Linked DNA regions of Homo sapiens: region 2 is linked to region 1. The links come from fine-mapping of genetic effects on gene expression. A gene starts in region 1. The other region holds a variant in brackets. All regions are shown on one strand. Distances are between the middles of the regions.

Region 1 (14,702 bases):
GAGTAATATCCAGAATACAGAGAAAACTCCTAAAACTCAACAGCAAAAAGTAAACCCAACTCAAAAATTGGCAAAGGACCTGAATATATTAAGCAGGTCTTTCTCCAAAGAAGATTTACAAATGGCCAATAAGCACATAAAAACATGCTCAACATCATAGCCATTAGGGAAATCAAAATCAAAGCCACTATGAGGTATCTCTTTATACCCAGGATGGCTATAATTAAAAAGTCAGATAATAAACAAGTGTTGGTTGTGGATGAAACCAGGACCCTCATACACTGCTGGTGGAAATGCATAATGGTGCAGCCACTTTGGAAAACAGTATGGCAGATCCTCAAAAAAATTAAATGTAGAGTTACCACATGATCCCACAATTTCACTACTAGGGATACATCCAGGAGAGCTAAAAATATACATCCACATGAAAACTTGCCCATGAATGTTCATTGCAGTCATAATAACCAAAAGGTGGAAACATACCTCCTATCATCTGTGAACAGATAAGCAAAATGTGATACATCCATACAATTAAATACCATTCAGTCATAAAAAGGAATGAAGTACTAATACACGTGATAGCATGGATGAACCTTGAAAACATCATTCTAAGTGAAATAAGTCAGATACAAAGGGGCACATATTATATGACTTCATTTATATAAAATATCAAGAATAGGCAAATCCACAGAGAATGAAAGATTAGTGGTTGCCAAGGGCTGGGGGGAGGAGGGAATGGAGAGTGACTACTAACAGGAATGGGGTTTCTTTTTCAGATGATGAAAATGTTTTGGAATTAGATGGCAGTGATATTCTTACAATTCTGTGAATATACCAAAAGCCAGTGAATTGTACTTTTTTTTTTTGTTTTGTTTTGAGACAGGGCCTCACTCTGTCACCCAGGCTGGAATGCAGTAGTGAGATCATGGCTTACTACAGTCTCAACCTCCCAGGCTCAAGCGATCCTCCCATCACAGCCTCCTGAGTGCTAAGACTACAGGCACATGGTACCACACCTGGCTAATTTTTTATTTTTTGTAGAGACAGGGTCTCACTATGTTGCCCAGGCTGGTCTTGAACTCCTGGGCTCAAGCAATCCTCCCACCTTAGCCTCCCAAAGTACTGGGATTACAGGCATGAGCCACCGCGCCTGGCCAGAAGTACATTTTTAAAGGGTGGATTTTATGGTATGTGAATTATTTCTCAATAATGTTATTATTTTTAAAAATAATAGTAATACATTAAGTGAAAACACAAGTTATAAAGCAATATCATAACAGAATACCCATATACACACACATACTACACAAACGCACACTTTTTTTGTTGTTTTTTTTTTTTTTGACAGTCTCACTCTGTCGCCCAGGCTGGAGTGTAATGGTGCAATCTCGGCTCACTACAACCTTCGCCTTCCAGGTTCAAGCGATTCTCCTGCCTCAGCCTCCCTAGTTGCTGGGATTACAGGCGCCCACCATCATGCCCGGCTAATTTTTGTGGTTTCAGTAGAAACGGGGTTTCACCATGTTGGCCAGGCTGGTCTCGAACTCCTGACTTCAGGTGATCTGCCCACCTCGGCCTCCCAAAGTGCTGGAATTACAGGCATGAGTCACCGCGCCCAGCCATGTATTTTTTTTAATGCATAGAAAAAAATACATCAAATATTAATAGCAATTATTTATGGGATTAGAGGCAATTTCTTTTTCATGATTTTTTTCCCACTTTCTAAAATCAGTATGTATAACTTCTGCAATGAGAGTTAAAATATTATCTCAAACAACAGGGGAGGTGGTCCAGCAGAGTCAAAAGCAGTTGAGAAGTCAAAGAGGCCAGGGATGCCCAGAAGCCCCTCAGCAATGTGGAAGGATTCTTTTCAACCCTAGCACTTCTCGAGTACCCCACAAAGCAATTTAATCTCACAAGCTCCCTGTCCTCTAGAATTTCTCAACAAATAACACTGACACAGATAGTGCCAGAATTACAAATACGTATATTGTACAACAGTTCAAGCCATAAAACTCAAGCATAAATTAGATTGTGTATACCCCAGGGGCATATGGGGAAGACAAAGGAATGGGCTGATAAGGCATAAGGGTCTGCAGTACAATATGTACTTTTTTATTTGCAAGCCAGAATGAAAATAGAAACCATGTTTTCTTTTTAAAATGCAAAAAATTGGCCAGACTTGGTGGCTCACGCCTGTAATCCCAGCACTTTGGGAGGCCGAGGTGGGCGGATCATGAGGTCAGGAGGTCAAGACCATCCTGGCTAACAGGTGAAACCCCGTCTCTACTAAAAATACAAAAAATTAGCCGAGCGTGGTGGCGGGCGCCTATAGTCCCAGCTACTCCGGAGGCTGAGGCAAGAGAATGGCGTGAACCCAGAGCTGAGATCGCACCACTGCACTCCAGCCTGGGCGACAGAACGATATTCTGTCTTAAAAATAAAATAAAATAAAAATAAAAATAAAATAACATGCAAAAAATTGAAAGAGTCTTAATTTTCTCTACTCCCCAGAAAAACTTTCTAGTGTCTCACAGTTCCTATATTTAAATCAAATTTTTCTTTTCTTCTTTGAGACAAGGTCTTTCTGTGTTGCCCAGGCTGGAGGGCAGTGGTGTAGTCATGGCTCACTGCAGCCTCGAACTCTTGGGCTCAGGTAATCCTCCTACCTCAGCCTCCCAAGTAGCTGGGACTATAGGCAAGCACCACCATGCTCAGCTAATTTTTGTATTATTTTGCAGAGGTAGGGTTTGGCCATGTTGCCCAGGCTGGTCTCAAATTCTTGGGCTCAAGCAATCCACCCCCCTCGGCCTCCCAAAGTGTTGGGATTACAGGCGTGAGCCACTGTACCCGGCCAAATTACTTTATTTTTTATTTACTTTTTAAAAGAAGAGCAGAGCAGAGTAGCATAGTATCTAAGAGTACATACTGTACAAAATCATATCTCGGTTCAAATCTCTGCCTCTGCCACTTAATAACTATGACACAGACCTTAATCAAGTTCTCTAAGCTTCAATTTCCTTATCTGTGAAATGGGGACAATGATACAAAGAATTAAATATGATAATAGCTATAGAGGGCTTATCATGGTGCCTGGCAGAAGGAAAGAGTTCAATAAATTGAAATTATTATTACTTCACAAGTAATGCATACTCACTGTAGAAAAAGTAGAAAATGAATATCTAATAAAATTGGAATCATATTGTTTGTAATCTGCTTTCTTCCGTTTGGCAATATATTGTGAACATTTTTCCCTGTCAGTTTATATATTTCTACACCATTATTTTTAGTGGCTTCAGAGAGGCTATAGAATGTTTCATAATTTATGGTGACCAAATCTCCCATTATTGGATATGATGCTGTTTCCAATTTTTTGCTGTTATAAAAATACTTTAATGGACACCCCTTTCTTTGTGCATGTCCCTAATTGTTTCCTAGAAATGGCATCGTATTCAGGCAGCCCCTCCTAATGGCAACTGAAATCTCGGCATGCACAAGCTCTGGAGTAAGGCTCTTAAGCTGAAATCTGGAATTACTTTGGGCAAGACACTTTACCTCCCCACGAGCATCTGTTCTTCATCTGTAAAACAGGATTAAGGGTTCTCCCTACTTCACAAGGTGGTTGTGAGGATTAATAAAATAATGAAAGGAGCTCCTGGTGGGCCTGGCATGTGGATAGAACATGGTTAACAGTGTTAAGTACCACAGACATTCAGAGAAAAGGAGGCCTGCAAAGAGGCCTGGATCTCAAATCCAGGGTCTAGTACAGCACCAGCACCTGGCATAGAGCAGACACTTAGAAAGCATCCTATTTTTTTTTTTTTTTTTTGAGACGGAGTTTCGCTCTCGTTACCTAGGCTGGAGTGCAATGGCACAATCTCGGCTCACTGCAACCTCCGCCTCCCAGGTTCAAGCGATTCTCCTGCCTCAGCCTCCTGAGTAGCTGAGATTATAGGCATGCGCCACCACACCCGGCTAATTTTGTATTTTTAGTAGAGATGGGGTTTCTCCATATTGGTCAGGCTAGTCTCGAACTCCTGACCTCAGGTGATCCGCCAACCTCGGCCTCCCAAAGTGCTGGGGTTACAGGTGTGACCCACCACGCCCAGCCAGAAAGGGCTCTTATCTAGAGGTGAAAGAAAAGAGATCATGATTCCAAAAATAAATACAACTCCTCTGTATTAAAAAAAAAAAAAAAGACCTTTGGGGTCCTCGTAGACAAGACAAGGATCAAATCCCAAACGACTCTCTTCACCTGGGTCTTTGAGGTCTGTCCATCATGACAGATCTTCAGGTTTTCATCTAATTCTCCACCCACAAAAGCACAGCGCGGCCTCCTGCCAGGCCCCTGTTCCCTCCAGCCACTCACTGTCCCCCTTCAGGGATTTACTTCTGCACTTTCTCCCATCCAAGTTCCAAGCAGGCCTGACACTGCTTAGCTTCTGAGATCTGCATGTTCAAGGTGGTATGGCCATGGACTTGACTTCCACACTTTCTGCTGCTCACCATGGGGGTCTGTCAGCCCTCCTGAAGCTTCAGGTCCAGCTTGGGCTGCTCTACTCTAGGAAGCCTCTCCCACCACAGGGCCCACCATGGTGGTCCAGACCCTTCAGCACTGTCTCCTGGGTGTCCGAGACAACTTCCTGAGGGTTAAAATGATGTCTATATTTCTTTGACCTCAGCCAGTGATGAGCAAAAAAGGCATGCGGTAAAACCTGGGGAGCAAAAACCCCCTCACTTCCCCTCTCTGTGATCCCCTTAAGACCTTCTGTTTACTTTAAGAGCAAAATGTTTGTCCCATGACCAGGCCCCAGACTCATTAATTCTATGAATGAATTTTTCTTTATGTTTACTGAACATGAGAGCCACACGGTGCCTTTAAGAAGGTTGCTGGCCTATGAGCAAGTCACAGAGGGGATCTAGGTGGGACTTGGCTGACCATTCTCTGGATGGGAGGAGGGGTGGCACGGCCTGGGCCTGGGATGTCAGAGCAGCTCTGGCTTGGGCCTACAGTGCTGCCAAGTGATTCCATTCAGCTCACTTGGTACATCATCCCTCCCAGGCCCTGGTGACAGTGAGTGAAGCCATCAAAAACACGACAACAGGAAAATATAGTGCTTATGGGAGCCCCAGGAGAGACCCTTCCCAAATGAAATGAAGTAAGAGAGGGTATTGAGAGACTGAGGGGATCACTGGCCTGGGAAAAAGAGAGGGAGGAGGGAAGACAGATTCTGGGTCAAACGACCGGCTTTAGCAAAGGCCTGGGCAGACGACCATCGGTGTGGGCAGCCAATAGGTACTGGCTGGTAGGATTCCCAGCAGAAGGATGTTGGGCTGCCAAGCCTGACCTACAAGGCCCAGGGCTCTGAATGACCCCAGATCTGCAGCTGCCTTCCAGCTAGCTAATGTGCCAGCATCAGCTTCTCTGTCAGCTCACAGCAGTGATGGGCTCTGTGGTTTCGATTTTTCAAATACAGGGGAAAAGTAATTTCAGGCCAGGTGCAGTGGCTCATACCTGTAATCGCAGCACTTTGGGAGGCTGCGATAGGAGGACTGCTTGAGCCCAGAAGTTTCAAACCAGTCTGGGCAATACAGTAAGACTCTGTCTCCATATAAGAAAATGAAAATTTTTTAAACTGAAAAAAAAAAGTGTTTTTAAAGGCTGGGCACAGTGGCTCACGCCTGTAATCCCAGCACTTTGGGAGGCTGAGGCGGGTGGATCACCTGAGGTCAGGAGTTCAAGACCAGCCTAACCAATATGGTGAAACCTTGTCTCTACTAAAACTACAAAAATTAGCCAGGCATGGTGGCGGGTGCCTGTAGTCCCAGCTACTTGGGAGGCTGAAACAGGAGAATTGCTTGAAGCCAGGAGGCGGAGGTTGCAGTGAACTGAGATCGTGCCACTGCACTCCAGCCTGGGCGACAGAGTTAGACTCCACCTCAAAAAAAAAAGTTTTTAAAAAGTAATTTCAGAAACTAAATATGAATGTCCTATACACTTCTCCACCATTAAACAGTAATTGCAAAAGACAGACAATCTCTGGGGCTCCAAAAGACTGTCACTCTATCAGGCCATGTTGGCCTGGAGGGAAGCTCTGCAGATAGGAAGCAAATGGATTCAGGGGACCACAGCGTCGTGATCTCCTTCTGAGGGGTTTGACAACCTCTAGCTCTCCTCTGGAGCATGGACTGTGAGAGGGAAGGGCAATGAATTAAAGCCAGTCAGGAGCAGCAATAAGGAGGAGAAACAACTGAAAGCCGTGGAGGTGTTTCCCTTGGAGGAAATGTGAAGGCACGAAGCTGTCCTCTTGAACAGAGGAAGAGAGATTCCTTGCTCTGTATCGTTCCCACCACAATGCTCTAGCCCTGCAGTTAGCACACCATTTTGAAACCACCTGCTTATAAATTCACTCCCCTCCCCAAAACCTCAGCTCCTTGGGCGTGTGAGTCACTTCTGAGTGGCCAACAACGATCCCACAGCCAGGACACAGCAAATACTGAACTGAGAGCGGAAATTACAGGAAGGCCTATTGTGGCTCAAGAAAGGGAAGTGCTTTCTAACAATCCCAGCTGCCTCCAACAGGCTAGAATGTTTGGGCAGAAGCATCGCCCCAGGGAAGGGTCTGCTAGCAATGGAATGCACTCATGCCAACAGAGGGAGGCAGGACAAAACAGTCTCTGAGATTTCTTCCAATTCTAAGACCCAGCCTCCTGGAGCAGCAAAGGGAGCCATGGGATCCGCCACTGCACTCCGGCCTGGGCGACAGGGGAGACTCCATCTCTTAAAAAAAAAAAAAGAAAGGGGGGCTGAGGGGGAACCACAGGGGAGCAATGCAATGGCAGCACCTGCACTGTGCCAGGGACACACATCCAAACGCTACCTCGTAACCCTCGCAATCCCACGAGGAGGTAGGCACTAGTACTCTTCCCATTTCACAGTGGAGGAATCTCAGGCTCAGGGAGGTTCAATAGCTTGCCAAAGACATATAACTTGTAAGACATGGAGCTGAAATGTGAACCAGGACCACGAGGCTGCCCTCCTGGCCGTGCAGAAGGCAGCTCCAACCCTTTGCAGCCGAAGACTCTCCAAAGGAAATAATATTAACTGACTTCATGGCTTGCTGACGCCAAAACGTGTCCAAAGTATTTTTACATCTATAAACCCAAAAGCGCTAAGCCAGCAGATCCAGTTCTAGGGAAAAACAGCTGGTCTGGGGCCATCTGTTCTGCGGGAGTCTAAGGGCTGCCCTCTCCTAGACTCCAACCAAAGAACATGAGATGCTACGGGAGGGATCTGGGAAGGCTCTCCTTAAGGAGGTAAGTTTTATGGAGAGCAGAGTATAAGATCAAACCTTTGCATTAGAAAGATCACTGTGGTAGCAGTTTAAGAGGCTGGGCTGCAGGCAGTGAGACAGGAGGCGTGAAGGCGATGCTGGACTAATGCAAGTGAGGGACACGCTGGCCTCAGGCTGATCATACTTCAAGGCCCTTCTGCCAGAATTCCCAGAGAGACCAAACTTTCCACTCTCTGGACCCCGATCTACTCACACTGTCATGGATGCGGGCCTGCTGTCAATCCTAATTTTGTGGAGAATCCTACATGTCTTTCTTTAATGTAAGGAGAGAAACAATGCTGATCGTAAATGCCAATTACTGAACTCACTCCATGCCAGGCCCTTTACACAATCTCCAGATGGCCCCAACAGCCCTATGAGGAAGGTTACTATCCTTATCCCGGTTTTGCAGAGGAGGAAACTGAAGTTCAGAGAAGGTAGCTTACCAAAGGTAATCCAGCTCCTAAAGGAAGGAGTCAGGATTTCAGTCGAGTTCTACCCGACGGCAGAGACTGCACTGTTAACCACTGCCGAGAAGAGTGGAGAGGGACGGCTAAGGGTTCTGAGTCCCGGGCTTCTGCGAGGATCGGTGACCCCGCGAGCCTCCCCCTCCACGCCTTCGGGAAAATAATAAGTGATAGGCTAGATGTGGGAAGCCCAATCCCAAACAAAGGAATCAGGAGGGATCCAGCTTTCGGCAGCCTTCAGCTATGAGAAGTGATTAAAGGGCATGGACCTGAGCACCCCGGACAGGAAAGACAGAAAAAGAGGTCCCAAGCGAGCAGCTGACTCGGGCAGAGGCGGGGCTCGCCAGGGAGGAACACTCTGGGGCGGGACTTACGAGGGGCGGGGCTCTCTGAGCCTCTCTAAGTCTAGGACCTGCCAGACCCTATGAGGGGGCGGCCCGAGGGAGGGCGGGGCCGCATGAGGGGCGGGGCTACAGCTGCGCTCGCAACCCACAGGTTCATGAGGTCACCTCCCCGCGCCTGGACCCAACCCTCATTCCATACTCTGGCTCCAGCAGGGCTGATCCGGGATCTCGATGGTGTAGTCCAGCTCTGCCGAGGCCATGGTGAAGGCGCCGGCCCAGAGCACGGGTCTCCAGCCGGAACTCCCGCTTGCGCACCCGTGCCTCACCCGGGCGCCTCCTGGGCGCCGCCCAATCACCACACACCTCCCCCAACACGGCCCAATCCCTGCGCCGCGCTCTGTGACCTCCCGCCTTAGCAACCACCGAGTCTCTTCCAGAGCCTCTCGCCTCACCCCACTAGCTCGGCCCTAGCAACCATGCCCCGCCCCTATTACTGACCCGCAGCCATTGGCTAATTCGCTTGATCTGGATCAGGTATTGGTCAGCCGGGGCGCCGGTCAGGAAGAGTCCCCACCCTCTCATGTAGGTGAGAGGCGGCTGAAGAGTTGCTGTATTCTGGGAATGGGCAGGGTCACTCGTCCGAACAGAGTCCTATCCTACGCGGCGGAAGAGTGTGCCCTTTGACTTGCATCGTCTACCTACCTCTGCCATCCTCTACCAGCCGCAACTGCGAGGGCTGGAGGTATAAAACCGTACAAAACGGCCTAGGGGGCGCGTGCCGACCCAACCTCCACCCAGTGGGGTTGAGGCATATTCTGGATGGATGGATGGATGGATGGATGGATGGGTGGATGGGAAGCAGTCTTCAGTTGATGACTTTAGAGAATGCCCTGTTGATAGGGCCCACCGAGGAGCTGGGAGTGCAACTTTCTTGCATTTATCTATATTTACATACTATGTGCCAGCATATTTACATACTATGTGCCAGAGACTGGGTGGGCTAAATAAGGTTCCTTAGGCCCTAGTGAGAATCAAGCTTTTGGCCCTCCCTCTCCCATGTCTTAACGGGAGAGGGAGAGAAACCATGCATGAAGCAACTCTGATTCTGCGTGTGAGATAAATACTACAGAAGAGTAAGGATTTGAGGAGCTCAGAATCAGAGAAGGGGCATTTATGGCAGTGGGGTTGGCTCTTGAGCTGGGCCTTGAAAGACTTTTAGAGATAGGGAGGGGGAAAGACTCTTTGCATGCCAGGCGCGGTGGCTCAAACTCGTAATCCCAGCACTTTGGAAGGCCAAGACGGGAGAATGGCTTGAAGGAGTTCAAGACCAGCCTGGGCAACATAGTGAGACCTTCATCTCTACAAAATTAAAATTTTAAAAATTAGCCAGGCATGGTAGCGCATGCCTGAAGTCCCAGCTACTTGGAAAGCTGAGGTGGGAGGATCACTTGAGTCAGGAGGTCAAAGCTGCAGTAAGCCATGATTGTGCCACTGCACTCCAGCCTGGGTGACAGAGTGAGACCCTGTCTCAAAAAACAAAACAAAGAGCCCAGTGTGGTGTCTCACCCCTGTAATCCCAGCACTTTGGGAGGCTGAGGCGGGCGTATCACTTCAGGTCAGGAGTTCGAGACCAGCCTGGCCAACATGGCGAAACCCCATCTCTACTAAAAATACAAAAATTAGCCGGGCATGGTGGTGCACACCTGTAATCCCAGCTACTTGGGAGGCTGAGGCAGGAGAATGGCTTGAACCTGGGAGGTAGAGGTGGCAGTGAGCCGAGATTGCTCCACTGCACTCCAGCCTGGGTGACAGAGCGCGACTCTGTCTCAAAAAAAAAGAAACATTAGTGCAGGAACTGGATTGAGGATTGGGAGAAGGAGGGAGACCAGTTAGGAGGTTGTTTCAGTAGTGGGGAAGGATTATGGTGGCACAAAGCATGGAGTGGCAGCTGAAATGGAAAGGGCAGGATGAATTCCTTAGACACTTATAGCTAGAAAAAAATGGACTTGGTTACTAATTGGGTGTGGGGGAAGTAAGGGAAATGAAGGATGACTTCTAGATTCCTGGTTTGGGCAAACAGGAAGGAGAGGAAGCAGGGGTTTTTAGGAGAGGGTCAGTTCTGGGCACGGTGAGCTTGGGGTGCCAATGGAACATCCAAGTGGAGGTATCCAGAAGGCCATTGGATATGCCTAACTGGAGTTCGCCAGATAAGTCTAACTGGAAGTTGCAGTGTGGGAGTCTATGGGGCCTTATAGATGCCAGCCACACCAATAGATTTGTTGAGCTTGCCCAGGGAGTAAGTGTAGAGTCAGAAGAGACCTAGGACAGAGCCCTGAGAAACACCCAAGTTTGAGGGTCTGGCAAAGGAGGACGAACCTGCAAAGGTAATCAAGATGAAGTGTCCAAAATGGTAAGAAGATCAGTAGTAGTATGTGGTGTTTCAGAAGCCAAGGAAGGAAAGTGTTGAAGGCTTATGACTAATCAAGTAAAATAAGGCCTGAAAGAATCCACTGGATTTAGAAACAAGGAAGTTGTTGGTGACCTTTACAAGTGCAGTTTCAGTGGAGTGATGGGAGCAGAGGTCAAATTACAGTGGTTTGAGAAGCAGATGGGATTGAGGAAGTGAAGATTCATGTAAGATACATTTTCAGAAAGCTTGGCTATTTAGGAGAAGAAAAAAGAAGGCAATATCCAGCAGGAAACACAGGTTTTTATTCGGATGGAAGAAATGTTGATGTGGATCCAGCAAAGGGGAAAAAGATAAAACTATAAGGGAAAGAAGATAACTGAGAATGGTGCCCTTGAAAAAAAGACTTCACCAAAGTGTTGGTGAAGAAATTCACTTAGAAGGGTGGAGGAACATTTGTTTTGTGGCAGAAGGGAAGCATTACGTTGAGGTTAATTGGTGGGTTTGGTGACAGGAAGCTGAGGGAATTCTTCGATGGTTTCCATTTTCTCTGTCAAATAAGAACATTATATCAGCCAGTGAGAGTGGGATTGGAGATGGTGTGCGAGATTGAAAAGAGCAGAGAAAGATTAAAATAGCAGCACTGGAGAGTGGCAGTGAGATGACTAAGGTAGCAAACAGATTTCTGGGCAGTTATCATGGCCCTGTCGAGGTTAGTGACCATTAATTTTCGGAAGCAGCAGTCTGCAAGGTTGTGTAATATGCATTTTTCCCTCAACAACATTCAGCCACCTAGTGGTGGGTACACAGAGGTTAGTTTAATTGATCTAGGTTTGGGTTTTACCAGGCGGATACAATGGAAGGACAAAGGACAAGGAAGTTGAAGATTGTGGCAAAACAGTGATTGAAATGAAGGGCCTTAGTATCTAAACTGGATAGGAGAGTGAAAAAAAATGTATGGACTAGAGGTCCCAGTGAAGTCAGAGAATCCACATCTGAGATCATTGAATGAGGGAGTTGTGATCAGAAAGTGGAAGAATGAAGTTTGAGTAGTTTCCGGTGATGACAAGGTCCACTGTGTGGCCGTGGGAGTCAGTGACCAAAGTGGAGTACAGGAGACAGTCAGGATGCTGATGTGGCCACTGAACTCCCCCTGGATGATAGAAAGACTTGAGGGGAGGGAAGGGAAGAGGATGCCCGTGAGCTAGGTACCAGTCTCTGATGGGCAGAGCAGGTTTTTCTGGAGTCTCTAGGTGACAGCATGAGGAGGGGCAAAGGCTGAGACAGCTAAATGGTATGACCCTTGAAGTAGTAAGGGCTTTTACAAGAAGGAGGTGGAATAAGGAACTGAGTTGGGCTTTGGCAAGGAGACATGAGGCCCCCTCCTAAACCTGAAATCCTGGGGGTGTAAGAATCTAAACAGATTCTACCAGGAGGGCCATGCAGAAGGGGAGCCCTGGGGTAGAGCCAGCTTTGGATGCAGGCTGGAGGTGGGCAGGTGACTGGAGAGGCTGAGGATGGAGGAGACTTAGCTGATTGGGAAGAAGGGTTTTCAAGAGCAGAGTAAAAAGGTTGGGAAGGGAAGGAAGGCTGGGAAATGGGTCGAGGAAGATGAAGCATAGAGCAGTGAAGGGGCAAGGAGAGTGTGGTTGACCTCGCCAGTTACATGTTGTGGAGAGAGGATGAGGGCAGGTCTGTGGAGCAGTGTTGGAGGCAGAAGTGAGTCTGGGGAGAAGAAGAGTGGGGGCTGTGGGTAGGAATGAGGGCAAGTGGGGAGAAGATGAAGGCAGAGGATTTCATAGGAAGGAGATGGGGGAAAGGAGTTCTTGTGGGGAGAGGATGGAGAAAATGGACAGATGTGAGGAAAAGGTGGGGGCAGATGGAGTCTACCAGGAAGTGATGAGTAGCAGGGGTAGGGGTATCTGCCAGGGTATGACTGGGGAGCAGAAGAGGGTCCATGAGAAGGAAGTGACAAATTGGAGTGCATATGCCCCTGGGAGAGAAATAAGGACACCTTGTTTGGAAGTTTGAGGAGATAATGTTTCTCTCTCCCTATCTCTGAATGGAGAACTGAGAGTTAGGAGTCAGGGACGGGAGCCCAAGGAGAAGGCCTGTCTCATTCTACATGTGAAACCTACAGGAATAGGAGGCAGTGACTTGCTTGTTGTCTCCGAGGCCATGTGGGGACAGTGAGCCAGGCTGGCAACCCATGCCTTGGAGGCCTCTTTGCTTTCAGAAGGTGTCTTTTGATTTGCCGGGGGGGTGGGGAAGCCCTCTGGGAAATTTTATTTAGAAACAAGACCTATTGACCTCTTGATTTTTAATACCTCCCCTTCGCTTGTTGCCAAGGACCTTTGGCTTAGCATGAGAGCTGAGGCTTTTGAGATTGTGTGATTTTAGTTTCCCTGCATGAAGAAGAACCATTTGGCCACTATAGAAATGATTTATGGATGAGTCCAGATTTATTAATCACCTCTGAAGATGGAGAGGAAATTAAAAACAAAGAGTCCACTCTGGGCTGAAGACAAAGTAGGTCTGTTATCCTTGCAGAAGACTTTGCCAAGGTTAGAAGGCCACAAACAAACCAATTTGGACCGAGGTTCTTAATCTGGATTTTTAATTTCGCGTGCTTGATTTTTTGCACCGTTTTCTCTCTGAGGTAAAATAATGACTATTTTAATTGGCTGCCACTTACAGAGAGATCCCAATAAGCATGATGGCATACATATATTTTTCTCTGGCATTCCATGTGTGCTCCAGTTCTTATGATCAAGCTGGTGAAGCTGACTTTTACTGCATGCTGCATGCCATGATCAGTTGACTATAAATTAAATCTTCTTTTCCAAAAGCCATTTTCCATTAGTGCTAATTTGTTTGCTTCTCATTTCCACTGATCATTAGAGTCTCTGGTTGTGAGCACCAAATTGGAAATAATTTCTGTGACATTTCAAAAAAAATTTCTCCCCTTCTTGAATGCCATTTGGCTGCAGCTAAATAACATTATGGTTTACAGAAGAACAGTTCACTCCAATTACAATTTAACTGACCGTTCATGGCACTGAATCCCTGTCCTTAGTGTCCAAAGATGACACCGCTGCTGACATTGCTGTTTCCTGTCATAGCTGTAAAACACCTCGTAGACTTTGCACTGGCCTTCTTGGATGGAGATTCTGCCACTCCGCACATGGCAGCTTTGGGAAGTTGGTAGTTTTATGGACCTGCATATCATGGACATTCAGATATAATCATCTCAACAGGAGCTGGGTGATTTCTTCACACATTCACTCAGCGAGCATTTATTCAACATCTGTTTTGTGCCAGGCATTATGCCAGGTCCTAGGGACACAGAGACAGGGAAGACCAACCCCTGCCCTTGAGGAACTCACACTCTAGTGGGAAGGATGGGTAAGTTTTAAAGCATATTAGAGGAAGAGGTGGCATGGATGGGACCAGAGCTGCAAACCCCTAGTTGTCCCAGGGAGTTTGCCAAAGGGCAAAAAGGAACCTGGCCATTCCTGATGGCAGAGCAACACTGAGATGCAGAGGGCCCTGGAAGGGCCTGGGGAGTTGAGAGTGCAAGGTTGTTGTAATGTGGAAGTGACTAGAGATGAAGTTAGATTGGGGCCAAGTTTGTTTGTTTGTTTGTTTGTTTGTTTGTTGTTTTGAGACACTCTGTCACCCAGGCTGGAGTTCAGTGGCACGGTCTTGGCTCACTGCAGCCTCAGCCTCCCAGGTTCAAGTGATTCTCCCGCCTCAGCCTCCCGAGTAGCTGGGACTACAGGCGCGTGCCACCACACCCAGCTAATTTTTGTATTTTTAGTAGAGACGGGATTTCACTATGTTGGCCAGGCTAGTCTCGAACTCCTGACCTCATGATCCACCGCTTCAGCTTCCCAAAGTGCTGGGATTATTGGCGTAAGCCACTGCGCCCAGCTGGGGCCAAGTTTTGAAGGGCCTTGAGTGCCATATTGGGTTTAGACTTTATCCAGTAGGCCACAGTGAGCTAATGGAGAAATCTGGGGGTGAAGCAAGTAGGAAGGGTAGAAGCTTACGGAAAAAGTAGTTAGGAGATGGCTTTGTTTGTATATTTATTTGGGTTGGTGGGGATTGAGCAAGTGTTTAAGAGGAGTCAGGGAAGATGGGAAGATTG
Region 2 (14,702 bases), 48 kb after region 1:
ACTTTGGGAGGCCGGCGGATCACGAGGTCAGGAGATCTAGACCATCTGGCTAACACGATGAAACCCTGTCTCTACTAAAAATACAAAAAAAATTAGCCGGGCGTGGTGGCGGGTGCTTGTAGTCCCAGCTACTTGGGAGGCTGAGGCAGTAGAATGGCGTGAACCTGGGAGGCGGAGCTTGCAGTGAGCCGAGATTGCACCACTGCACTCCAGCCTGGGTGACAGAGCGAGACTCCGTCTCAAAAAAAAGAAAAAAAAAAAAAAGAGGGAGCAGGGGCCAGGCCTGGTGGCTCATGCCTGTAATCTCAGCACTTTGGGAGGCCGAGGCCGGCAGATCACCTGAGGTCGGAAGTTCGAGACCACCCTGACCAACATGGAGAAACCCCTTCTCTACTAAAAATACAAAATTAGCCGGGCGTGGTGGTGCATGCCTGTAATCCCAGCTACTTGGGAGGCTGAGGCAGGAGAATCCCTTGAACCCGGGAGGCGGAGGTTGCGGTGAGCTGAGATCACGCCATTGCACTCCGGCCTGGGCAACAAGAGTGAAACTCCGTCTCAAAAAAAAAAAAAAAGGTAGCAGGGTATACAGAAATCAGAGACAGAATTAATTACAGAATGTCAGGAAGATGGCTGACACTGGTCTCTTCCTTTTTTCTTGAGGCAGGGCCTTGTTCTGTCACCTAGGCTGGAGTGCAGTGGCGCATGCACGGCTCACTGCAGCCTCAACCTCCTGGGCTCAAGTAAGTAGCTGGGACTACAGGCACATGCCACTATGCCTGGCTAATTTTTTTTTTAATTCTTTTTAGAGATGGGATCTCACGATGTTGCCCAACCTGATTTGACTGTCCCCGGCCTTTTTTCTTTTTTTGTTGGGGGGGAAACAGTTTTACTGTTTCCCAGGCTGGAGTTGAGTGGCTTGACAGCTCACTGCAGCCTCAAACTCTTGGGCTCAAGCGATCCTCCCGCCTCAGCCTCTTAAAGTGTTGAGATTGCAGGCATGAGCCACCACGCCTGACTGGTCTGTTTCTTACAGCAGTGCAACATGCTAAACACGTTCATGCTAGTGCCCTGCTGGAAAAGGAAGCAAACCTCGGTAAGGAAGCGCACTTCTCATATGTGTCCAGTAGGTGGCAGGCTTGTCTGGACCTGCAGAGAAAGACCCGGAACCCTGGTTTTGCAAGGCTCTGGGATCAAAGAATTATAAATGATCAGTGCTGTTAGCACCCTGGAAATGGCTGCATGGAATATCCACAGTTCCCAGGTACAATGCCATTTCTATGGCTCCTTCTGCCAAAGGAATACTAAGCCTGCTGCTACAGCCCTGTCTCTTGTTCATTGTGGTTTCCTGGGCAAGTCATTTGTTCTTGGTTTCTTCGTCTATTCAATGAGATGATCAGACCAGTGATCACTGAGGTTTCCTCTAATGCTGATAGGCTGTGGATTCCAAAGTTCCTCTTCGGATTGGAGCAATGAATTTGTCTCCTGCACCATTAAAGAGTTTCCATGGAGTGTGAGTGGCTAGGACCTCACATCTGTTTTTTGTTTTTTTGAGATGGAGTCTCACTCTGTCACCCAGGCTGGAGTGCAGTGGCACAATCTCAGCTCAATGCAACCTCTGCCTCCCGGGTTCAAGCAATTTTCCTACCTCAGCCTCCTGAGTAGCTGGGATTACAGGCGCCCACCATCACACCTGGCTAATTTTTGTATTTTTAGTAAAGACAGGGTTTCACAATGTTGGCCAGGCTGGTCTTCAACTCCTGGCCTCAAGTGATCATCTGCTCGCTTCAGCCTCCCAAAGTGCTGGGATTACAGGCGTGAGCCACTGCACCCAGCCACATCTGTTTCATTTACTGCTGTTTCATCAGCACCAGCACTGCACCTAGCACGTGCTCAATCCCTGTTTGTCAAATGCATGAGCATGGGCCCCACAGAGCATCCTCTCAGCTTCATGGGGCCTGAACTCTCAAACATTCAAACCCTCCTGATGATACCTCCTCCTTGAATACTCTCATCCTCCTTCCCAAACCCATACTCTCCTGGCTTCCTCCTATGGCTCTAGAAACTGCTTCTCGGTCTTTTATACATTCCCATTCCTCTACCAGTCTCCTAGGTGTCAATTTTTTTTTTTCAGCATTCAACTCCAGGTCTTCTTCTCCTTCTTTGCTGTCTATGGCACCTCGTCCGCTCCCACAACTTTAATTACCACGACTTTATGTACCACCTACCACCTTGATGACAGAAACAATAGTCGCTAATCTTTATAGAGTGTTAACTCTATGCTGGATACTGCCCTTGATCTTTACTCATTTACCCCTCACAGCAAGCCAAGGAGGTGGGCACTATTATTTTCCCCATTTTATGGATGGAGGACAGAGTAGTGGAGTGACCTCTCTATAGCTCTAGACCTGTGTGTCCATTTGCCTTCTGAACACCTCCCCTCAGATGTCACCAGTGGACTTCTGATATTCCAGTTCCAAAGCTTTTCTTCTCCAAGGTCCCAATCTCAGTGGAAAGTACCCAGCTGCCCAGGCTAGAAATATTGGTAATTGTCTTGTCTTTTTGCTTCCCACCTTCAACCAACTTCTAACAAGACCAGTCAATTCTAACTCTTCAATATGCAGATGCGTTCCCTCTTCCCCATTCTGTCTCCACTGCTGTAATTCAGGTCTTCATACTGCTCACCTGCACTGGCCTCTACACCAATCTTCATCTGTCCAGTATGGCGCCCACACACAGTTCATTTTCCTAGTCCACCACCAGAGTGGAGGCAGTAGACTTAGTGGTGAAGAATATGGGATTTGGAATCCGAACTATTCTTTTTTCTTTTTTTTTTTTTTTTTGAGACGGAGTCTCACTCTGTAACCTAGGCTGGAGTGCAGTGGCGCGATCTCGGCTCATTGCAACCTCTGCTGCACAGGTAAAAGATATTCTCCTGCCTCAGCCTCCCAAGTAGCTGAGATTACAGGCACCTGCCACTGCGCCCAGCTAATTTTTGTAGTTTTAGTAGAGACGGGGTTTCACCATCTTGGCCAGGCTGGTCGTGAACTCCTGACCTCGTGATCCAACCGCCTTGACCTCCCAAAGTGCTGGGATTACAGGTGTGAGCCACCGCGCCCGGCCTGAAATCAGAACTATTCTTATTAGCTATCTGATCCTGAGCGAGCTACTCAACTTTTTTGAGCCTTCCTTTTCTCTGAAATGAAATGAGAAAAATGCCTGCTGTATCGGGTTGTTGGCACATGCATAGCCCTGCAGAAGCTGGGGCTGGCCTGCCTCCACAGGCTTAGCTCTGATGCATGACCCAGCATCCCTGTTTCCCAGCCAGATCTCCCTTGCCTGGCCACAAATGTGACATGGCACTATCCAACATGGCACTTGCCACATTCTACATTCCAGCCCCTCCCTTCTCCCTATGGTTTTGCCAATTCACGCATCACCGTCTCCAAGGAATCCTTCTCCTGATTCTCCATCCCCTATCATCTCCACTCCATCAACCAACCTGGCTTCCTTTGTGTTCCCATGGCCCTGATAACACTGCCTCATAAATGCCAGTTTCCCTATTGGTATCCCCCACTCAGCTGTGATGTCCCTAAGGCCAGTGATTAGATCTTAGTCCTCTTCATAGCCCTAGCCCAGAGGCCTGGCACAGACAAGATGCTCAATGAGAATTTTGTTAAATAAATGAATGAATCAATGAATAAATCAGTGATTGCTCAGCTTTAGGACATTTGGGTGTTATCAGCACCACAGGCTTTAGGCAAAGCTGCCAAAGATAGTCTTTTGTTGTCCTTTGCTTTCTGAAGGAATTGCCCTTCCTAGTAACTAGCACGATATATAAAGAGTTGTAACTGGCTGTGGTTCCTGTGAAGACATTTGGGCAGAGACCAGTACTTTCACTTTGGGTATAAACAGTGACAGCTGTGAATTTTAAAACTCAGTCAGAAATGATTCAGTGAATAAATCTTCATTTTTCTAAGTAGCTCCAAGTGTTACAAATACATAATTAGCAAAAGATTAAGCATTTAGGTAAAGTGAATAGTCAGAACTAGACATTTGTCTCCTGGAGTATTTGGTTCTACATGGGCAGAAAATGCTATTTGTGGTCAAGAAATTTTCATAAAAATATCTTCACCTGTTCGTTTCTACCCTGAGTGTCCACCAAGTCATGTCTTGCTGCAGGAAGAGCTCTTGGGCACAGGCAGACATTTGCCCAGGATGTCCTGGCATTACGCACTGCCAGCTTGTGCCTGGGAAGAGCCCAGCTACTAATGAGGGACGTGCTGCAGGCGACAAAGCCAAGTGTCATCAGATGCATGAGGGGCCAGACCACTTGGCTCCAAAAAAATGAGCTGCACCAATTCAAGAAGAGGGAAGAAACCAAATGGTAGAACAAGTGAGAAATACTTTGGGGTTTCAGGCAGCAGCCGGTGCAGGCTACGGCTGCCAAGCAGCCAGAGATGTCCGGTCTGCCATTTTGTCCAGATCAGAGAGTGTTTGGGGGAAGCCAGGGAAGCTCAAGTGCTTTGCCCCTTCCCGGGGCTGGTCCCTTTCCCTCCACAATGTTGCTGGGCCTTTGATTCCAAAATAGGACCACATCTGGGCAACCAGAGGCTGCAGAGGGTGGGCAGATGGGATTGCGAGGGCTACCTTAGAAGACTTAGAAGAAAGAGGCAGCCCAGCAGCAGTGGCTGGTTGGTCATAAGAAGCGTTTCTGGGCCGGGCATGGTGGCCCATGCTTGTAATCCCAGCACTTTGGGAGGCCGAGGCAGGCGGATCACCTGAAGTCGGGAGTTCAAGACCAGCCTGACCACCATGGAGAAACCCGTCTCTACTGAAAATACAAAAAATTAGCTGGCCAGTGTGGTGCATGCCTGTAATCCCAGCTACTTGGGAGGCTGAGATAGGAGAATCACTTGAACCTATGAGTCAGAGGTTGCAGTGAGCTAAGATCGCACCATAGTACTCCAGCCTGGGCAACAAGAGTGAAACTGTCTCGGAAAAAAAAAAAAAAAAAAAAAAGGCATTTCTGAATGAAGCCACTATTTCTAAATCAGGAAGGTCCTCAGAGGAAAGGGTCTGCCCCACAAGGTCTGTCCCCCAAAGGGTGAATAAGTACTGGAAGGGGTAGCACAGGATGTCTTTGAAGATCTTCCACCTCCAGGTGATTTTTTAATTCTGTGATTGGGAAAACCAGGATGAGACAAAACTAGCTTTTATAGGGCTTCAGGACCAGGCCCCCTCTAGTGTGCCTCAAGGCTCTGGAGCCTGAGGATGATGGGCAAGAGGCAGAGGAGAGCAGGATCTGGCACAAGGGCAATTTCGAGGAGGCAGGCTGGTTCTCTACTAGTAGCCTTTCCATGCCTTTCCTTAGATTGACACACCAGCCAAAACTCATTCTCTTCTTCCTGCCGAAGGGCACTCTGAGCCCTGGAGTGGAGAAGTCAGCTCCCCATCCCTCCGCCGGTGTTTTCAGCACCCAGGAGAGCTGAGCATGCAGCCTGCAGCACACAGGATGTGGCTGCTCCCTCTGCCTTCCCAGACCACTGCTCTTTTGGAAATCATCAATGATAGTTTTCTGACAAAGTTAGAAATCGCCAGCATGTGTTCCTTTTTAGGCAGCATATGTCTGTTTGGAGTTAAACAAGTAAAGTTTGCAGGAGCTGAAGCAGAGACCTGTTCTGTGTGCTCTGTAAATCCACGCAGTCCACATCTCTGACCATCTCACCAGGTGCCCTGTGTCTCCCACTGTGAGAAGGACCACACTCTTCCCCTTTCTGTTGTGCCTGGGTTGTATGATATGAGCATCCATAGAGTGGTGCCCAGTTCTGGGGTGGCCAAGAAGTATAAGGTCCTGGCTTCAAAGCACTCTCAAAGTTGGCCATGGGGCCAGGTGCAGTGGCTCACGCCTGTAATCCCAACACTTTGGGAGGCCAAGGTGGGTGGATCACCTGAGGACAGGAGTTAGAGACCAGCCTGGCCAACATGGTGAAACCCCGTCTCTACTAAAAATACAAAAAAATTAGGCAGGTGTGGTGGCGGGCGCCTATAATCCTAGCTACTTGGGAGGCTGAGGCAGGAGAATTGCTTGAATCCATGAGGCAGAGGTTGCAGTGAGCCAAGATCGTGCCATTGCACTCCAGCCTGGGCAACAAGAGCAAAACTCTGTCTCAAAAAAAAAAAAAAAAAAAAAAAGTTGGCCATGGGGTATACGGGGAGACAGCTGCCACAGTTCTGGCTCTCCAGCCTGTCCAAGATTCAAGCTAGGAAAGTTCTGTAGCTGTGTGAATGAGGACCACAGTGGCCACTGCAGAGCCTCCTCTGGGGTCATCCACCACCAGGCTGGTGGTTTCTAAGC[G/A]TGGTCCTAGGCTGCCATGACCCAAGCCTCGCCTGTTGGAATGCAGAATCCAATGAGGTCTTTTCAACAAGATGTATGGAGCATGCATTGTGTACATGGAATGGTTTCAGGCTCTAGGTAAACAGAAGTGAGATGTGTCAGATATGTTCATTGGAGTTCACACACTAGTGAGGAGACCATTTAGTGGATAGTACTAGAATTCTATAGCAAGAATTCTATACGGTGCTACGGGTTCAGAGACATAGGACATCTACTCCTGAGTGAAGAGTGAAGGCAGAGGAGAGCAGGCCAGGGGCAGCTTCCTGAAAGTTGATTTCTCAGCTGAGCCTAGAAGAATGAGTAGCAATAGCCAGATAAAGAAGACTTCTCAGGCCGGGCGTGGTGGCTCACACCTGTAATCCCAGCACTTTCGGAGGCCAAGGCAGGTGGATCACTTGAGGTCAGGAGTTCAAGACCAGCCTGGCCAACATAGTGAAACCCTGTCTCTACTAAAAAATACAAAAATTAGCCAGGCGTGGTGGTGCGCACCTGTAATCCCAGCTACTCGGGAGGCTGAGGCAGGAGAATCCCTTGAACCCAGGAGGTGGAAGCTGCAGTGAGCCGAGATCGTACCACTGTACTCCAGCCTGGGTGACAGAGTGAAACTCCATCTCAAAACAAAACAAAACAAAAAAAGGGCAAAAGAAAGAGAAGGCACTGAGATTCTGCTCTCGGTGGGAAGTCTGATACCTCTAGCATACATACTTTAAGTTGGACCCCAGAAGACAGTACCCTCAAGGTCAAGGTGGGCCAAAAGTAAGCCGGCCCTCAGGTGGTCTTGTATGGATTATATAACTACCAGGTGGTCCAGAGAACCTCAAGTGTTGAATGTGGACAAAGGTAGTCCAGAATTGTTTGTGTCCCCAGGTACCTGATAAAAACAAAAGAAAACTATCTCTGGAAGAAAGTATCATCATCCTAACTCTTAAGTTTTTCCTACACTTAATTTTTCAAATATGAGACCAGTCCAAAGTATAAGATAATCATGCACACAAAGTCATCACTATAAATTGGAACTAGCACACTAGAAAGACTCACAAGACTTCAGCCAAATTATTAGATACAGACTGTCAAAAACTAGGTTTTCTTTTAAAAAAAAAAATCTTATAAACATTTAGCTTCCTAAATGTTTACAAGAAGCTAAAAAAACATGACAGTAGGCCGGGCACTACAAAAAGTACACAAAATTAGACAGGCTTATGAGGCTGAGGTGGGAGGATTGCTTGAGCATGGGAGATGGAGGTTGTAGTGAGCCGCGACCACACCACTCCGCTACAACCTGGGTGACATTTGTGGAGCTACCCCAACCTCCCAAAGCATGAAACACCCCACCCACACGTCTCTCTTTAGTAACAGAACATTCAGCCTTGCCTAGGCAAGACTTCAAAAAATTTAACCATAAACTCATAGTTGTTTTTCTCCACGGAAATCTTTAGTAAAAGGCGAAAGATTTATTCGTTATGAAGAGAAACCAGAGATCTGCCTGTTAGCCTTTTGCCTGGCTTCCCAGCTATTGACTGGTCTCCCTCTACTTACGGTGCCTTTGGACCTGCAGACAGAAGCTTTTCTTCCACTGTAGAAAAGTGTCCTAAACATGTTCTCACTGGGTAAAATCTCCTGACAAAGAAAAAAAGTTTAAATATTATTATTCAAACAGATAACCCTGGTAATAATTCTCGTATCTACAATGCATTCTGGGATGCAAATGAGCTGAGCGCCGGAACAAGAGTTCCTCTAAACCCTCTCTCTCTTACCAGTAAATGGAGAGAGGCACTTGACTACTGAGCTGGGGAGAGCACATGGCCAAGTCCTGTCTTCCATGTAGCCACATGTGTTCAGAGTAGCAGTGCCCGGTGCACAGTGACTCACACCTGTAATCCCTGCACTTAAGGAGGCAGAGGTAGGAGGATCGCTTGAGCCCAGGAGTTCAAGACCAGCCTGGACGACAGAGTAAGACCTTGTCTCAGAAAAAAAATAAAATTTAAATTTAAAAAAAAGTCCAGGCGTGGTGGCTCATGCCTGTAATCCCAGCACTTTGGGAGGCCGAGGCAGGAGTTCTCGGTCACTTTGGGAGCACTTTGGGAGGCCTGAGCACTTTGGGAGGCCTGAGGTCAGGAGTTCAAGACCAGCCTTGCCAACATGGTGAAACCCTGTCTCTACTAAATACAAAAATCAGCCGGGCGTGGTGGCAGACGCCTGTAATCCCAGCTTCCCAGGAGGCTGAGGCAGGAGTATCGCTTGAACCCGGGAGGCAGAGGTTGCAGTGAGCGATTGCACTCCAGCCTGAGTGATGACAGTGAAACTCCGTCTCAAAAAAACAAACAAACAAAAATACTAGCATTTACTGGCTGGGCCCACCGGGCCCAGTGGCTCATGCCTGCTATCCCAGCACTTTGGGAGGCCGAGGCGCGTGGATCACGAGGTCAGAAGTTCAAGACCAGCCTGGCCAAGATGGTGAAACCCCATCTCTACTAAAAATACAAAAAAAAAAAAAAAAAAAAATTAGCCGGGTGTGGTGGCGGGCGCCTGTAATCCCAGCCTACTCGGGAGGCTGAGGCAGGAGAATTGCTTGAACCCAGGAGGCGGAGGTTGCAGTGAGCCGAGATCGCGCCACTGCACTCCAGCCTGGGCGACAGAGTGAGGCTCTGTCTCAAAAAAAAAAAAAAGGTAGCATTTATGCTGGTGTGCCATCATCTTAGCATCTCCTTCTCCTCCTGCCCCCTCTAGCTCTGTGGTTCCTTTCTCTTCTTTACAAAAACATTCAATCCTTGCCGATTTTCTCTTGTGCTCCCACAGCCCAATCACTGACTCCTTCCACAGCACCTGTCACCATATCATCGCTGCCTGTTTGTGCACGCTTAAGGAGGGTTGGTCGAATGAATGAATTCAGTCTGTATCCTCAACACCCAATGCCGCGCCTGGCACCATAGGCGTTCACATGCAGCCGTGCCGAAAGACTGAGTGAATGCTGGACTGAATGAATGACTGCCTGTAAAATATCTACAGGAAAGCCCTGCAGGAAATGCCCTCCATAAATTCTAGTCCCCTTCTCCTTCCTAACCAAATCCTCCCCTCCTTCTGCTTCCATCACTTCCTAGCTGTGTAACTTAGGCAAAGTGGTTTACCTCTCTGTGTCTAATTTCGGCAAAGGTAAAATGGGGAAGTGAACCTCATCTGGTTCTGGTGAGCTTCCACGGGTGCTGTATGGAAAGCCTGGCACCCTGCCTGGTGGAGAGGGCTCGATGATGGTTAGAAGGAGAGTTTCTCTAAACTGCCGCCTACCTTCCTTCCCCTTTCTCATTTCCTGCCACAAGTCTCCCACCCACTTTCTCTGTCTCCCTCTCACCCCTTGTCTTTCTCCATCTTGTCTTCCCGTAAAGACCCAGCCCTTCCCTCCTCCATGAAACCTGGATTCCTCCAAGGCGAAGGCCCCCCTCTCTGGGGTCTCAGCCTCCAGCGCTGACATCCTAGGCCGCCTCGACAGGTGGGCTCACCATCCAACCCTTCCTCCTCCCCCTTCAGCCCCCTCCTCCTGCTCTTCAACTGAGGTTCGCCTTCCCAGCTCCCCCACGCCCTGCACAGTGCTGATCAGTAAAAGAGGAGGACACTGACGAGTGGCGACTTGGTTCACGGGGTTCTTTGCTTCCTCGGTGGCGGAGGGGCCTGGGGCCTCTCTCCAGCACCTCTGCCCTTCCGCAGCCATCGAGTTGATCAAAGACCTGGTCGGTTACGATGTGCGCCAGGCGCTGCTCAAGGGCCTCGTGGCGCTGCTGATACCGTCGGTCAAGGAGATCTCCAAACTGCAGGCCAAGATCCTCAGTGGTAAGGACCTGCTCAAATGGGGCTGCCTGGGCCACGGGAGGGCGGTCTCTTGCCTCACGGCTGCCCCCTCCTCAGACCCCTCGGTTCTCCAGCTCACCCCCAGCCTGCCGATGTTTTTGCAGCAGGCCGCGGCCGCCAAGGCCATCGGGTAAGCGGGCAGGGGTTAGTGGGTAGCTGCAGCAAGCCTGGCTTGGCGCTGCCGGCGGGCCCCGGGAGCGCTCCGTGCGCCGGGTGGGCGGGGGTGTGCGCCGGGTGAGCCCCAGGGCGTCGCCCCAGCCCGAACCCCCGGCCCAGGGTCCTGGCGCGCAACGACATGAGCATCGCCGAGGAGCTGCTGTACCTGCGCGTGGTGCGTGGCCTAATGGCCGCCATGGGCAACACGGACCACAGCAACAGCCAGCGGCTGGCCAGCCTCACGCTGGAGGTGCGCGCGGCGGCTGGTTAGGGGGCGGGAAGGGCGGCGGCACCCGCAGCCCCGTCGCCCCCGCAGTCACGCCGCCTCGCCCGCGCGGCGCAGTGCTTCGTGCAGATGTTCCCCTTGGTGGCGGAGCACGTGCGCAAGTGCATGGGGGAGGAACTCTACCAGCTCTTCCTGGTAAGTGCGCCCTTCCTGCCCCGCCGCAATGAGCAGATGGCGGCTCGGACAGTGTGATGCCCCTTCAGACAGTCCCCATCCTGGAGCGCGCCACATGCAGAGTGGACCTGGCCACCAGCTGCAGGAGGGACTGCTCTGGCGTAGGCTCCTCCACCCGCCACCTTCCTGTTCCCTTTCCTGCCCTTTCGGTCAGGCTGCCGACCCGCCCCCCACCTGCAACATCCCTCTGCCAAGCCCAACTCCAAGTCCAGACTGCCCTGGCACCCCAGCCGGGTCCCCCTTGCTCCTGTCCTCAGAGCAACGCTGAGGACTTGTACATGAAAATAGACAGCATTCAGGCGGACATCTTGGCGGCCAACACAGTCAATGTTACCAAAGGTGAGTGTGGGACGAGGGAAGCCGGGCGCAGGCGCCGCCAGCACAGCCTCACGCCCGCCTTTCCTGCCTGCAGCCCTGTGCCTCCATGGCAGCTCCTACAGCATGAACACTCTCTATGGCTCGCGCGATTCGGCTCAGATGGCCTACCTCACACACTTCGAGGAGGATGTAGAATCAAAGGAGTAACAGCCCCTGTGGCAAACCAGGAAGGCCAAGGCTGCGGGGCAGGGAAGCCTGGCAAGAGGAAGGCGCCTGGGGTCAAGCTCAGAGCCACTCCACTTGGCTCCAGGGGGGAGACGGGGATTAGGCATCCCAGAGGGGCAGAGGAAGAGCCGCTGGCTGCGAAGAGTCAATAAACAGCCTTGATACCTGTCTGTTCTTTGTGTGTGTGGAGGGGGAAGGGAGGTCAAGTGAGAGCTATGATGCTAGATTGTGGTGCCTGTGCTCCTCAAGTTAAAAAGCAGGTCCAAGTTTAGGACGGTGGCTTGCACCTGTAATCCTAGCTACTCTGCAGGCTGAAGGAAGAAGATCTCTTGAGCCCAAGAGTTGGAAGCCATCATGGACAACAAAGCAAGACCCCATCACAAAAACAGGCCGGGCACGGTGGCTCACGCCTGTAATCCTGGCAGTTTGGGAGGCTGAGGTGGGCGGATCGCCTGAGGTCAGGAGTTCGAGACCAGCCTGGCCAACAGGGTCAAACTCCGTCTCTACTAAAAAATAAATAAAAAATAAAAAATTAGCCGGGTGTGGTGGCACACACTTGTAATCCCAGCTACTTGGGAGGCTGAGGCAGGAGAATCACTTCAACCCGGGAGGTAGAGGCTGCAGTGAGCCAAGATCACACTACTGCACTCCAGCCTCCTGGGCGACAGAGTGAGACTCATTCTCAAAAAAAAAAAAAAAAAAAAAAAGCAGATCCAGAGGGAAGGGCCACCAACACCCTAGAAGGTTCAAGGGCATAGCCTGAATAGAGGGCCTCACCTCCACTCCCTGATGGCCTATGCACCCTTTCCTCCAGAACACCCTACCTACCTGGTTTTTCTCCGGTTGTTACAGACATTAAAGGGGGTCGTTTGATCCTAATGGGTCCTTTCCTTGCCTGGAACCATTTGCACCAATAGAACAAGGCCAGGTTCCATAAAGCAGAGCAGAAGCTTTATTCATTGATCTAGGAGATAGCAACAGGAGGCAGCCAAATGCCTAGGCAGATAGGGGTGGGTCCCCAGTGAACCCCACCTTCAAACCAAAAACAGCCTGAAGGCTGAAAGACCGACTGCTGGTCCTGGATGAAACCCACAACCCAGAGTGAGAACTTCTGTTTCTGTTTGCCTGCCCTTTCCTGATTGATTCTTTCTGAATAATGCCTTTTAACCAATTGAATGTTGCCTTTTCCAATACTACCTATGGCCTGCCCTTCCCCCATTCTGAGCCCATAGAAGCCCTGGACTCAGCCATATTAGGGGGACTTTCCCACTTTCAGGTAGGGGGACCACCCCCCACAGCCACCGAAAGCTGTTTTATCACTCAGTAAAACCCCACCTTGCTCACTCTTCAATTGCCAGTGCATCCTCATTCTTCTTGGGCTCGTGGGACGAGAACTCGGGAACCAGTGCATAAGCTAGACTCCGCCAACTGGACTGAGCGGGTGGGTCGTCTCCTGCAGCAAGTAAAGGCCATCTCCTGCAGCAGGTAGCCTGGCGAGTGAGACCTGGCAGGGCATTGCTGGCCAGAGGTCCCCAGCTTGCAAAGTGACCAAGAAGAAAACCTTACATCATAGGAATGGAGGAAGGGGAGCTCATGCTCAAAGCACCTTCTCCCAGGGGGAGGGGCCTGGTAAAAAGGGAGTCTCAAGGGAACTTAGGGCAGGTAGGTGGAGACTGGGTTGAGGATTTCTGGAAAAAGGTAGGTTCTTCCAGGAGGGGCTGGAGTGTGCATAGTCTTTTTTTTTTTTTTTTTTTTTTTTTGAGACGGAGTCTCGCTGTGTCACCAGGCTGGAATGCAGTGGCACAATCTCGGCTCACTGCAACCTCAGCCTCCTGAGTAGCTGGGGCTACAGGCATGCACTACCAAACCCAGCTAACTTTTGTATTTTTAGTAGAGATGGGGTTTCACCATCTTAGCCAGGCTGGTCTCGAACTCCTGACCTCATGATCTGCCCGCCTCAGCCTCCCAAAGTGCTGGGATTACAGGCGTGAGCCACCACACCCAGCTTTTTTTTTTTTTTTTTTTTTTAGACAGGGTCTCTGTTGCTCAGGCTGGAGTGCAGGGGTGCAATCTCGACTCACTGCAACCTCTGCTTCCCAGGCTCAAGCAATTCTCATGCCTCAGCCTCCGGAGTAGCTGGGACTACAGATGTGCACCACGACCACATTCAGCTAATATTTTTTTCTTTTTTTGTAGAGATGAGGTCTCACTATGTTGTCCAGGCTGGTCTCCAACTCCTGGGCTCAAGTGATCCTCCTGCCTTGGCCTCCCAAAGTGCTGGGATTGTAGGCATGAGCCACTGTGCCTGGCCTGAGTGTGCATGGTGTTGTTTTTTCTTTTGAAGATTTCTCCTCTTCAATCCAGTCTCATTCAAGTTGGAGTGAGGCAGGGCTCCTGGTCTGGAGTCTCTCTTCTATCTGCTTTTACACCCTGCTGATTTCATCCTGTCTCAGAACTTTAAATATCATTATAGGCCAATGACTCCTACATTTCTATTTCCAGCTAAACATTTCCACCTCATCGTGTCTAAAACTGAACTCCTAATCCCGTGCCACTTTCCCCAATTCAACTCATGGCAACTCATCCTTCCTATAAAACAAAACAAAATAGTGGAGTGCTTTTTAATGTCCGTCTTTAGCACCCATATCTATTATGTCTGTTGGCTCTATCTTCCAAATACATCCAGAATCCAACCATATCTCACTACCTCTATTGTTAATACTCTGGGCTGAGCCACTATCATCTCTCTTCAACGTTATTCTGCTTTTCTCCCTCTTCCTGTTCTCTTTTCTTTTAGTTTCTTTTTTTTTGAGATGAAATGTCACTCTGTCACCCAGGCTGGAGTGCAGTGGTGTGATCTAGGCTCACTGGCACCCACCACCTCCTGGGCTCAAGCAATTCTCCTGCCTCAGCCTCCCGAGTAGCTAGGATTACAGGCTTCTGCCACCACGCCTAGCCAATTTTTGTATTTTTAGTAGAAACAGGAGTTCACCATGTTGGCCAAGCTGGTCTCAAACTCCTGACCTCAAATTATCCACTCACTTCAGCCTCCCAAAGTACTGGGATCACAGGCGTGAACCACTGTGCCCAGTCAATACCTGTTCTCTTTTTAATACGACAGCCAGGGTTATCCTTTTAAGCTTCAGATTCTATCACTGGGCTCAAACCTTGGAGGGCTCCCCATTTCGCTGAATGAAGACCCTAGGTGCTCAGGTTTCCCATCACCTCTCTAAACTCTTCTGCCTCTGTCTGTCCTTCACTCTGCTCCAGACACACTGGACTCCCTTGCTGGTTCTTTTTTTTTTTTTT

Evidence for each region. PIP is the estimated chance that this variant, and not a neighbour inherited with it, causes the effect.
Region 2: its variant is fine-mapped to the expression of ARMH1 in blood mononuclear cells (TOPMed, PIP 0.99).

The regions. Positions count from the first base shown.
Region 1 is chr1:44,665,987-44,680,688 of GRCh38, forward strand. ARMH1 (armadillo like helical domain containing 1) reads left to right here and starts at 8,728. Exons shown (of 12, transcript NM_001145636.2): 1 at 8,728-8,887. It overlaps TMEM53 (transmembrane protein 53), which reads right to left and starts at 8,495. Exons shown (of 3, transcript NM_024587.4): 1 at 8,345-8,495. The coding sequence starts at 8,405. It overlaps SNORD145 (small nucleolar RNA, C/D box 145), which reads right to left and starts at 5,070; the gene lies at 4,971-5,070. RefSeq lists an enhancer at 7,939-8,440 and silencers at 8,208-8,347, 8,498-8,547, 8,618-8,667.
Region 2 is chr1:44,714,029-44,728,730 of GRCh38, forward strand. ARMH1 (armadillo like helical domain containing 1) reads left to right here. Exons shown (of 12, transcript NM_001145636.2): 7 at 10,094-10,216; 8 at 10,292-10,364; 9 at 10,511-10,640; 10 at 10,734-10,811; 11 at 11,108-11,189; 12 at 11,263-11,563. The coding sequence ends at 11,375. RNU5F-1 (RNA, U5F small nuclear 1) reads right to left here and starts at 7,874; the gene lies at 7,757-7,874. It overlaps LOC105378690 (a long non-coding RNA gene), which reads right to left and starts at 10,091. Exons shown (of 5, transcript XR_007066059.1): 1 at 10,007-10,091; 2 at 7,931-8,011. RefSeq lists a silencer at 9,409-9,703. The variant G/A (reference allele first, on the strand shown) is at 6,356.